Regions from separate parts of the Homo sapiens genome. Here region 1 is linked to region 2. Evidence: fine-mapped expression QTL. A gene starts in region 2. The other region holds a variant in brackets. All regions are shown on one strand. Distances are from middle to middle. Region 1 overlaps NACC1 (nucleus accumbens associated 1). Region 2 holds the start of NACC1 (nucleus accumbens associated 1).

Evidence for each region. PIP is the estimated chance that this variant, and not a neighbour inherited with it, causes the effect. A credible set is the group of variants that fine-mapping cannot tell apart.
Region 1: its variant is the best candidate, but not a certain one, in a credible set for the expression of NACC1 in fibroblasts (GTEx, PIP 0.69).

The regions. Positions count from the first base shown.
Region 1 is chr19:13,137,848-13,142,847 of GRCh38, forward strand. It overlaps NACC1 (nucleus accumbens associated 1), which reads left to right. Exons shown (of 6, transcript NM_052876.4): 6 at 300-3,300. The coding sequence ends at 559. Among named protein-coding and RNA genes, the nearest start is that of STX10, 10 kb to the right of the region's middle. RefSeq lists an enhancer at 1-31. The variant G/A (reference allele first, on the strand shown) is at 2,499.
Region 2 is chr19:13,115,198-13,120,706 of GRCh38, forward strand. It overlaps NACC1 (nucleus accumbens associated 1), which reads left to right and starts at 3,067. Exons shown (of 6, transcript NM_052876.4): 1 at 3,067-3,257. It overlaps TRMT1 (tRNA methyltransferase 1), which reads right to left and starts at 1,543. Exons shown (of 17, transcript NM_001136035.4): 1 at 1,456-1,543; 2 at 949-1,234; 3 at 800-855; 4 at 429-571; 5 at 82-269. The coding sequence starts at 1,202. RefSeq lists enhancers at 1,537-1,726, 2,687-2,836, 4,112-4,613, 4,614-5,114 and silencers at 2,877-3,076, 3,627-3,676.

The DNA of each region.
Region 1 (5,000 bases), 22 kb after region 2:
GCCACTCGTCATGGGGGGCATCTAGATTTTCAAGTGACCACTCCCCGTTACTAAATTCTGGCAAATGATCCGAATTTTTCAAGAACACGGGGCCATCCCATCAAAACCAACACATCCCCACACATGGCTGAACTCAGTCCGGTGTAGGGTTGGGTGCACGTAGTGTGGTGTCCTGGCCGCGTGGCCTCACTCGTTTCCCCTTTGAGAGGGAGTCGCAGATGCTGTAGGGGAGCTGGTGAGTAGGCCTTGTGGGAGTCACCTGGCCCCCGTGCCAAGGCCGCACCCACCCTGCCCCACAGACTACTGCCAGAACTTCGCCCCCAACTTCAAGGAGAGCGAGATGAATGCCATCGCGGCCGACATGTGCACCAACGCCCGCCGCGTCGTGCGCAAGAGCTGGATGCCCAAGGTCAAGGTGCTCAAGGCTGAGGATGACGCCTACACCACCTTCATCAGTGAAACGGGCAAGATCGAGCCGGACATGATGGGTGTGGAGCATGGCTTCGAGACCGCCAGCCACGAGGGCGAGGCGGGTCCCTCGGCTGAAGCCCTGCAGTAACCCGCCCAGCCTCCCGCGGGGCCACACACTTCCCCTCCCAACACACACACACACCTGCCATCTTGGTCATGAGCTACTGTCTGTCCCTCCCCAGGACCCGCGGTGGGTGCTGCATGTTCCCGGCCCTCTGCCCCTCCTGTCCTACCCCCTTTCCCCACCGAGAGCTGGGCCGGGAGAGGACCGCAGGGCAGGTGGCGTGAGGTCCGTGTTGCCTTCTTTAACACACACTCGTGCAGTGGGGGAGTTCTGGCTCCCCAACCTAACCCCTAGCCGTCATCTCCACACTCACCAGGCCCACCAGGGGAGGGGGCTGGCCTGGGGGTCTTGGGAAGGCCCCTCCCCAGGCCCTAGGCCACCTCGCGGAAGCCTTCAGCCTCCGCCCCTCACTGCAGCCCCTTGGGACTTGAGGGGGGCCCCAGGGGTTCTCAGGACCCCTCCCACCACCTCCCAGTGCTTCCACGTCTCCAAAAGCGCCTTCCTGTCACCCTCGTCTATCCCTGCGCCTGGGGGCTGGGGTAGGCGAGGCCGTGGGGACTACCCATTTTATAGCTGGGGAAACAGGCTCCGAGAAATTGCACAACCGACCTCAGGTGGCCGGCAGTGGCGTGCCTGGTGCCCTTTCTCCTCTTCCGCCTCTGTTGCTCCCTTTGGTCCTCTGGGGCCTCAGAGAGGCAGGTCCTAAAGGAGGGGGGGTCTCCTGGGGGCAGACCGAGGGTCTCGGAGGATAGAATGAGAGGTTTCCAGGGCTGGCAGAGTGTGTGCGTGTGTGTGTGCAGAAGTTTTGCTTTCAAACAAATGAAGATACAAGAGGCAGTAGGACCTGGGTTGGAACCCAGGGGAGCAGACTGGGGGGCTGTTGCCCCTCCCTCCATCTCCCCACACCCACCCCACCCCACAGCAGGGCTCCTGGCCCCCACCCCCCTGTACATAATTTTTAAAACCTTTTTTTAGCGAATGAAATATTGAAGTATAAGATTCCTTTTATTTTTCAAACCAATGGGGCTGTGTCTATTGTCCCCCTCGGTCCCCAGGGGTGGGGGGCCTTGGAAGGCAGGGCGGTGTTGGGGGGCTGGGGGGCAGGCTGAATGTGTGTGTGTGGGTGTGTATGTGTGGAGTGTGTGTGTGTGTTTCCATGGTAGGACTCCAGTCCCAGCTGCTGCCTAGGCTCCTGTGGGTCCTGTGGGTCCCCCTCCCCTGTTCACCTTCCCCAACAGGGCTATAGTTTAAGGGTGTCCCAGGCCTTGGCTGGTTGGCTGGGCCCAGCTCCTGGGGGCTGGGCAGGGCAGGGCAGGGCCGGGTCCACTTCCATTGTTAGCAGTTGTTTGCAGAATTTTCTCTTTTACCATTCCTCTCTTTTTGTTCTCGCCCAGAGTGGGTGGTTTTTTGTTGTTGTTTTAGATTTTCATGTGAAGGCAGTTTTTTTTCTTTTTTAACTCCCCATCCCCCTATGCAGGGTGTCATTTCACCATCCACATCCACATCCTTGTTTGTGTTTCTGGCCCTCGTCCTCCCTGCCTCTCATCTGCCTCCCCAACCCCCACCTACCCACTGCTCCCAGGGGTCTCTCCAGGGGCAGGGGGATTTTAGGAGATGGGGTGGGGGCCAGCCCCTACTGGACCCTTGTAATCTGATTTGGAGACCATCCCCCCGATGGGACCAGCAGCCCCGCCGGCCCACTGGGGGTCCCTCTTAACATCTGCTTGTTGCGGGGGTCAGTCATGAGTGCCAGGGTCTGGCTGGGGTCTTGGCACTGTCTTCCTGGCCGGGGCCTGAAACCTTAGCCCCCAGCCGGCCTGAGTGGGGGATATTGACACCCCCAGCTAAAGCACAAGCACCTTAGTCACCCCTCCTCTCCCCCCGCCTCCTGGCCTGCCACCCCACCCCAGCGTTTACCCCAAAGCACAATGCCCTGGTCACTTGGCAAGCGGCTGGGCCTGAC[G/A]GAGGCCGAGGGGCAGACCGGGGCTCCAGCCAGACCCCTGAAAGGAAGGTGCTCCCCCACTTCCAGGCCTTAGTTGGGGTGGGGGGGCCAGCTCCTGGGCCTGGGGTCTTCTCACCCCCACCCCCTTGTCCTGGGTAGGCCCCTGCCTGCCCCTCTCTGCCTTTTCCTCGGGTGTCCCTCCTCGAGCCCCTGTGGCATTGGCTTGGGTGGCAGAGCCCACTTGTTTCAGGGACCCCAGGAGGTGCCCCCTGGCTCCCAGGACTGTGTGTGGGTCCGGGGGGTGGGGGGGTGGGGAGAAGGGTCGGGCAGGGGGTGCAGGGGAGGAAACTCCTCACCAGGAGAGCCAAAGACAGGGTTGTGCCTTACCCCAGGAGCCACCCCTGTACCCCCCTTGCCCTGCCATTCACCCTCCACCCCTACCCCTGGGCGGCCTGCTGCTTTTTCCTTCTCTTCCTCCCCTGCCCTGAGCTGCATGGTTCCCCCACCCTGGGCAGCCAGGAAGGAATCTGAATGGAGAATCACCAACCACCAGAGAAAAAAGACTGTGGGGCCCTCCCCTGCCAACTCCCCTTCCCTGGCCGCCCACTCAACCCACACCTCTTTCACGCAGGACAGGCTGCCCACCCTGTCCACGTGAAGTGCCAACGCCCTCCCCACCCTGGGCCGAGCCCCCACCCCTCCCTGGGCCCCCAAGTGAGATTGCACATTTAACTACTGTAAGGAGAGGAGCGGCGTTGGCAAATGTGAACCATGAGAATATCAGTGATACTGATGAGAATAAACTAAACGCCTTTGTAACAGCCTTGCCGCATGCTCGTTACTTGGGGGCCCAGGGAGGAACACACACCTGCATTGTGCCCAGCAGACCCAGGTTGCTGACTGCAAACTGACAGCCTCCGATTCTAACACGCATGCAAGTTACCCCAACAGATACAGATAACGCAACATATGAGCTGGTCCTACACACACACACACACACACAATTTTTTTTTCTTTTTTTTTTTTTGAGATGGAATTTCACTCTGTCGCCCAGGCTAGAGTGGCGCGATCTCGGCTCACTGCAACCTCTGCTTCCTGGGTTCAAGCCATTCTGCCTTAGCCCCCCCAAATAGTGGGGATTGCAGGCACCCACCACCATGCCCGGCTAATTTTTGTATTTTTAGTAGAGACAGGGTTTCACCATGTTGGTCAGGCTGGGCTCGAACTCCTGACCTCAGGTGATCCACCCGCCTTGGCCTCCCCAAGTGCTGGGATTACAGGTGTGAGCCACCGCGCCCAGCATTTTCTTTTCTTTTTTTTTTTTGAGTCGGAGTTTCGCTCTTGTTGCCAGGCTGTAGTGTCATGGCGCGATCTCGGCTCACTGCAACCACCGCCTCCCAGGTTCAAATGATTGTCCTGCCTCAGCCTCCTGTGTAGCTGGGATTACAGGCATGCACCACCAGGTTCAGCTAATTTTATATTTTTAGTAGAGATGGGGTTTCTCCATGTTGGTCAGGCTGGTCTCCCAAAGTGCTGGGATTACAGGCATGAGCCACCACCACACCCAGCCTGAAAAAATACTTTTAATTAGCTGGGTGTGGTGGCATGCACCTGTACTCCCAGCTACTCTGGAGGCTGAGGCAGGAGAATCACTTCAACTGGGAAGGTCAAGGCTGCAGTGAGCTATGATGGCACCACTGCACTCCAGCATGGGCAAGAGTCAGATCCCATCTCAATAAAAAAAAAAAAGGGAGCTGTGGCTCTGTCAATTTTACAGCAACACTGGCTCACTCGGTGCCCGCCTGTGCCGTGGCTGATATGCCAAGCCCCAGAAACACATCCCATACACACACACTCCACGCCGCATTCAGAAGAGCATTCATGCATTAAAAGAACATAAAAGAGATCGGCAGGGCGCAGTGGCTCATGCCTGTAATCCCAGCACTTCGGGAGGCTGAGGCAGATGGATCACCTGAGGTCAGGAGTTCGAGACCAGCCTGGTCAACATGGCAAAACCCCATCTTTACTAAAAATAGAAAAGTTAGCTGGGCGTGGTGGAGTGCGCCTGTAATCTCAGCTACCCAGGAGGCTGAGGCAGGAGAATTGCTTGAACCTGGAAGGCGGAGGTTGCAGTGAGCCAAGATCGCACCATTGCACTCCAGCCTAGGTGACGAGCAAAACTTAGTCTCAAAAAAAAAAAAAAAAAAACGAGATCACAAAATTTAACCGATATTGGAAATATCTGGGTGAACAAGAGGGTCCCAAGAATATGAAAGGACAAATGGTTCTATCAAGTAGGAAAAACCATGGATGCACCGTGGGTCCCCATAGACTCAAAGATAACACAAGATTAAAGTAACTGGGCTGGGCACGGTGGCTCATGCCTGTAATCCCAGCATTTTGGGAGGCCGAGGCAGGTGGATCACCTGAGATCAGGAGTTCAAGACCAGCCTGGCCAACATGGCAAAACCACGTCTCTATTAAAAATACAAAAATTATCTGGGTGTGGTGGCGGGTGCCTGT
Region 2 (5,509 bases):
ACAGAGTGAGAATGTGACAGAGCCAGAATTTGACCCCAGGCAGGCTTGTCCCAGAGCTAGGCTGTGATGCCCAGAACCTACCGGGCATCTGCTTGGCTCGGCTGTACCAGGTGGGCCACGTCATTGAGCTGGACATTCCGGCGTATGAGATCCACAGCCCGGGTGGAGGCATCGTTTGCAACCACAGATCTGAGCCCAGGCACCTCTAGGGCAAATCGAATGGAACGTAGGCCTGAAGCTGCCAGGCCTTCCAGCACATGCAGGCCTTCCTGTTGGAGTAAGCAGAAAACCTCCCTCACATCTCCACCTCCATCCTCTTCTGGGCCCCAAGGAGCCCCCACCACCCACCTCCTATAGCTCTCCCCCTCCAGGAGCCCTCTGTCTCCCGCTAAATTCCAGGGCTGCCAGCTCCTATGCTCAGGCCCCACCTCACAGATCTCCCCCACGGCCGCTGTGCGAGGTTGGTCTCCTGAGGCCAGGTTTTCACTCTCTTTCAGTTCAACCTTTTCCTCCTCTTGCTCTGACAAGTCCACGACCACTTTTTGCGTGTCCTTCTCTCCTGGAACCTTGACTGCAGCCACCCAGAGGCACAAGTCAGAGAATAACAAGGTCCCCTCTGAGAAACCTCCCCTTAATCTCCAAAATATCGTCCCTGAAATCCCTGCGGAAAGGCTGAAGGAGCAGAACCCAGGGCCTGCTATGTGGCTGAAGCCCCTCTGGATTTGGGCGGCAGAAGAGCCCAGGCAGGGAGATAAACTTGTGTGACCCCCGCCCACCAGAAGCCTGGACCTCCACTCACTCTGGATTCCTTTGGCCCCAAGCTGAATGCGAGCAAACTCGGTGATCACAGCACATCTGGTGGGAGACAGAGGACTAGCTCATACCCCGCCCCCGCCATCCACACTGACCCACTAGCCGATGCCAGGCTAACGTCTGACCCCTGCTCACGTCAGGTCCCGATTGAATTCCTGCACCGGGTTATAAAAGACCTCGTTGGCACTGGGAAAGGCGATTTTGGCAGCCCCCTCGGTGACTGTCGTCTCCTGGACTTCACGTGGACGTTCTTCTCCGTAGGGCCCGGTGCCGTTCTCCATCGCTGCTGTATTCGGCAGCCCTGGAGACTGCCACTCGAAAAACCGGGCTCTAGAGAGCACCCGGGCGGAGCGGAAAGTGAGGCTTAGCCACAGAGACGATCCTTGCATGAGACATCCGCTGGCGCCTCCGCCCGCCAAGCCTGGTTCGGGGGGCGGGGGAGGGCACAGAGAGGGTCAGAGAGCCGCATTCCGGGCCCGGGGATGTCCTACATATCTATGAGGTAGGGACTAGGAAAACCTGCGGCCTCGGTAAGCTGATATCCCCTCGTTTTGGGGATGACTGGTCCCTGTGGAGCCGATGCCCTCGTGCAGGCCCGCCCCGAGTCCGAATCCCTCCCCGCGCTGCCTAGCCCGTCCTCACCTGCTCTCGTAGCCACAGAAAACCGAATTAGTCAAGGTGCACGTTTCCCGAATTAGGACCTGGGCGCCGCCATGTTGGCACAGTGGGTGGGCGAATCACATGATAGTGGTTGGCCAGTCAATGAGGAAACGTACGGTGGGCGGCCGGGATCAAAATGAAAGCCATAAAGGAAGCGCGCTGATCGTGCTGTTCCGGGGGTGTTAATCACAGTGGATCCCCTGGGAGAGGACACGTCCCTAGTCCCATTTCACAGATGAGGAAGTTGTGGCTCAGAAAAGGGGCGGTAAGCGGAGAAACCCAACACTTATTGGTCCTCTTCTGTGTTCTGGGTGCTATATACACATTATTTCAGAGCACCCTGCAGGAATGACTCAGGCTCTGGAGTTGGATTTACCGGGTTTGAATCTCAGTCCCATCACATGCTCTGGGCAGGTTACTCCCGCGGCTTCACTTTTCTTACCTATTAAATGAGAATCGTGGTTTCTCAGATAGAGCAAAGATTAAATGACAGATTCCTGGAAAGTGTGCAAAGAACCACTCTAACATTGTAAGCGCTCGGTAAAGTTCTAACCAGTGTATGAAGGCAGGACAGCGAAGTGGTCCCGGCTACCTGGGTTCCAGTCTCAGCTCGCCCTGCGACTTGTTAACTCTGAACTTAAGTTACCGCTTTTGCAAAATGGGCAGAACTTTTTTTTACCATTTGTTACTGGGTTGTAGTGAGAAGTAAACGAGTTAGTGCAGGTAAAATGCTAACAGAACCTAGCATCCGGTAAGCATCATAAAAGTCTTAGGTCTTATTGTCGCTTTTGAGCCTGTGTTTAAATCCTGGCACCTACCATCACTTCCTTGCTGTGTGATGATCTTGACCAGCTTTCTTCATTTCTCTGTGCCTCCTTTTCTTTCTTTCTTTCTTTTTTTTTTTTTTTTGAGACGGAGTCTCGCCCAGGCTGGAGTGCAGTGGCATGATCTCGGCTCACTGCAACCACCGCCTCCCGGGTGCAAGCGATTCTTCTGCCTCAGTCTCCCGAGTAGCTGGGATTACAAGCGCATGCCATCACGCCCGGCTAATTTTTGTATTTTTAGTAGAGACAGAGTTTCACCATATTGGCCAGGCTGGTTTCGAACTCCTGACCTCAGGCGATCCACCCACCTCGGTCTCCCAAAGTGCTGGGATTACAGGCGTGAGACACCGCGCCCAGCTGCCTTTATTTTCTATAGTGTGTCTGTAGCAGTTCTCACTAAAAAATGTTACTGTGTAGTTTAAACGAGCTAATTCCCATAAAGAATGTAACGCAGTGCCTGCCACAATAAACAGCAGTCATTATTGTTTTTGTTTTACAGGAAACTAAAGTTCGGAAAGGTAGAGCGACTTGCCCAAGGTCGCGGGACTAGAAGGTGGCGGGGCCAGGATTCGAACCATCGAGCTGAGCCGACGTACTGGCGAGGATCCCCCAGGGGCATAGAGAGGAGACGGAGCCGGTTAGAAGGGGCGCGCTCGGAGCTCGGCTGGCCTCGCCTGGAGGGCGGGGCCCGAGGGCGGTGCGCGGGCGGGGCCGGGGCCGCTCCTCCCTGGCCTGGCTGCGGCGGCAGCGCGGCTTGCGCTCGCTCGGCGCTCGGCTGGGGCGGCCTGGCCCACAATGAATGGCCGCCGCGGCTGCCGCTGCTGCTGAGGCGGAGGCCGCGGAGGCCGCGGAGGCGGAGGCCGAGGCCCCGGCGCAGCGGGGCGCGCCCCGGGCCCAGGCCCGGCCCCAGCCGCCGCTGCGGAGCCCGCCGGGACCCCCCGGAGCGCGGCCACGGCGCAGGTGAGGCGGCCCGCCTCAGGCCCGGTTCCGGCCTCCTCCAGCCGGGGCGGCCCGAGGGCTGAGTGGGGAGGGCCTGGGTGCTTTCTCGGACCGAGGAGGAGCCGGGCCCGCAGCCTGCACTGTGCCCGGGCAGGCGAGTGTGTGGAGGCCCAGCTACCGCGGGCGGCCTTGAGCGTCCAGCCCGAGCTTCAGGGCTTGGGGGCGGCAGGATCGTACCTGGACCGCTCCCCCGTCTCCCAGCGAGGGAGGGGGCCAGGTCGGGCCGGGGCAGGTACCGGGGATCCGGGGAAGTTGGAGGGTCCGAGGCGGAAAAGTGAGGAGGTTCTCGTGGATGCCGGAGGGGGAGGGGGAGGGGGAGGAGGAGTCGGGCTCCGGCCAGGCCGAGTGGGGGAGGAGAGGAGAGCGGCGCGGCCGGAGGGGGGCGGGGAGGGGCCGGGCCTGCAGGTACCGCCTGGGCGCTGGAGGAGGTGGGTGGGTCAAGTTACAGGCCTGGGGGCGGCTGAGGAGAAGCCCAGGAAGTGGGGCACGGCGGGTGTGGGCGGAGTTACTTCGTGTGGGGGCGGATAGGAGATCCCAGAGATGTTTTCCGGGGGTCACATGAGGTCAGGACTCAGATGTGGGGAGGGGGAGGCTAGATGTGGGGGCGATCAGGTAAGGTGAGGGACTGCTGTAGGAGTTTTGGGAGTCGAGAGAGCAGAGCCTTTTGGGCTAGGCTAGGGGGGATGTGGGGGCAGGTCAGGAAAAGCTGGTGTGACCAGAAGGTATATACTAAGATGCGCCCCCCACCGCCCCCAACTCAAGTGTTAAGGGGTTCCGTCTTTCTCACACCTCATCCCTGAAGCCTCTAGAGTCCTGACCCTACCCCTTGGGCAAGCCTCTGCCAACTGTTCAAAGGCACTGGCCAGTGGGTGTTTGTGTGGGCAGCTGGAGACAGTCTGGAACACCTAGCTTAGGCATCTTGTTTATCACAAGGTGGCCCTTGCCCACCCCCACCTTATATATCTACAGGGAGGCAGCCCAGCAGACGTTACCTGGGTATTTTAGGATCCTGCATTCTTTCTCTACCTTTTGTGGCCAGAAGCTGGTGGTTCAAGCCTAGTGGATGGGACCTCACAGCAACCATCGTATATATTAGTACCATGGCCTCCCAGGCACCAACTCCTTGAGCCTGAGTTCTGTGTGCCATCTCCCTGGGGGTGAAGAATTAGAGGGAATGAGCATGTAAAACTCTGTTGATGGTGGTTTGGAGGCTCCCGACGGGGTGAAGGCAGGGCACAGAGAAGAGTTAAGGGGATCAAATCAGGCACTCACACCCTGGCCCAGGGATCTACCTCTGGGACACTCGTCCTGGGCCAGGCCCTGTGCCGAGCTCGCTGGTCGGATGAGCTCATTGATGGCTCACCACCACCAGTTCAACTTAGGCCTTCTCTGGGGTCCAGACGAGGAAGCTGAGGCTCGGGGTGGTGTGGCTTGTCTCAGATCACATGAGCAGACAGTGGCTGAACTGGGATTGTCTGACCCTCAGCCCAAACCCATAGTCACTCAAGTGGCCTTCCAGGAGGGTGACTGAAGGAGCTCCTCGTTCTGGATTCCCTGGCGGGCGTTCTCCTCCGTCCAGGCCTTCCCTTCTGCTCACCCCGGGGGATGGGTCAATCCCCTTTGGGACAGACTGAGTTTCCATGGTGTCCCCGGGGAATGGAACAGTGGAGGTATCTTTCTCGGAGGCCTGGTCACCCCTTCTTCCCCATTTCCCTCCTGGGAGCCAAGAGGTCAGGAGTCATGGAACTGTGGGCTGACCGTGGGAAGCTGAGGAGGCCTGGCACCACCAGGGCTGGACTTGACTTTGCTTGCCTAGACTGTTTTTGCCCCACTTTGGCCCCCAGTCGGATGGCAGCAGCTTTTGTTCCTTTCTGGGCTAATTGCAAGGCTGTTACCAGGGTGTCCTTGGGACTTTGATTTGGGATCTTCAGCACCTGAGGCAGGAGCCACAAACTGCTGGGTCAAGTGGTGTCAGCCAGTTCTGGGTTTAATGATGGGTTGTCACCCTAATTCTCCCCAGTCTCCCTATAGTTCCCAGGACACCCTCCAACCTGGGCCCTGCCCTTCTTGCCTGTCTGGCTAGCCACTTGGTTCTAGGAGGAGTAGGAACTGGGCCAGCAGTCCCGCAAAGAGACTGAACCATCCTTCCTGGCTGGTTGGGCCAGGATTGCTGCAGGTCTGCTTCAGCACAGACTGGGTCCTCCTGGACCTAA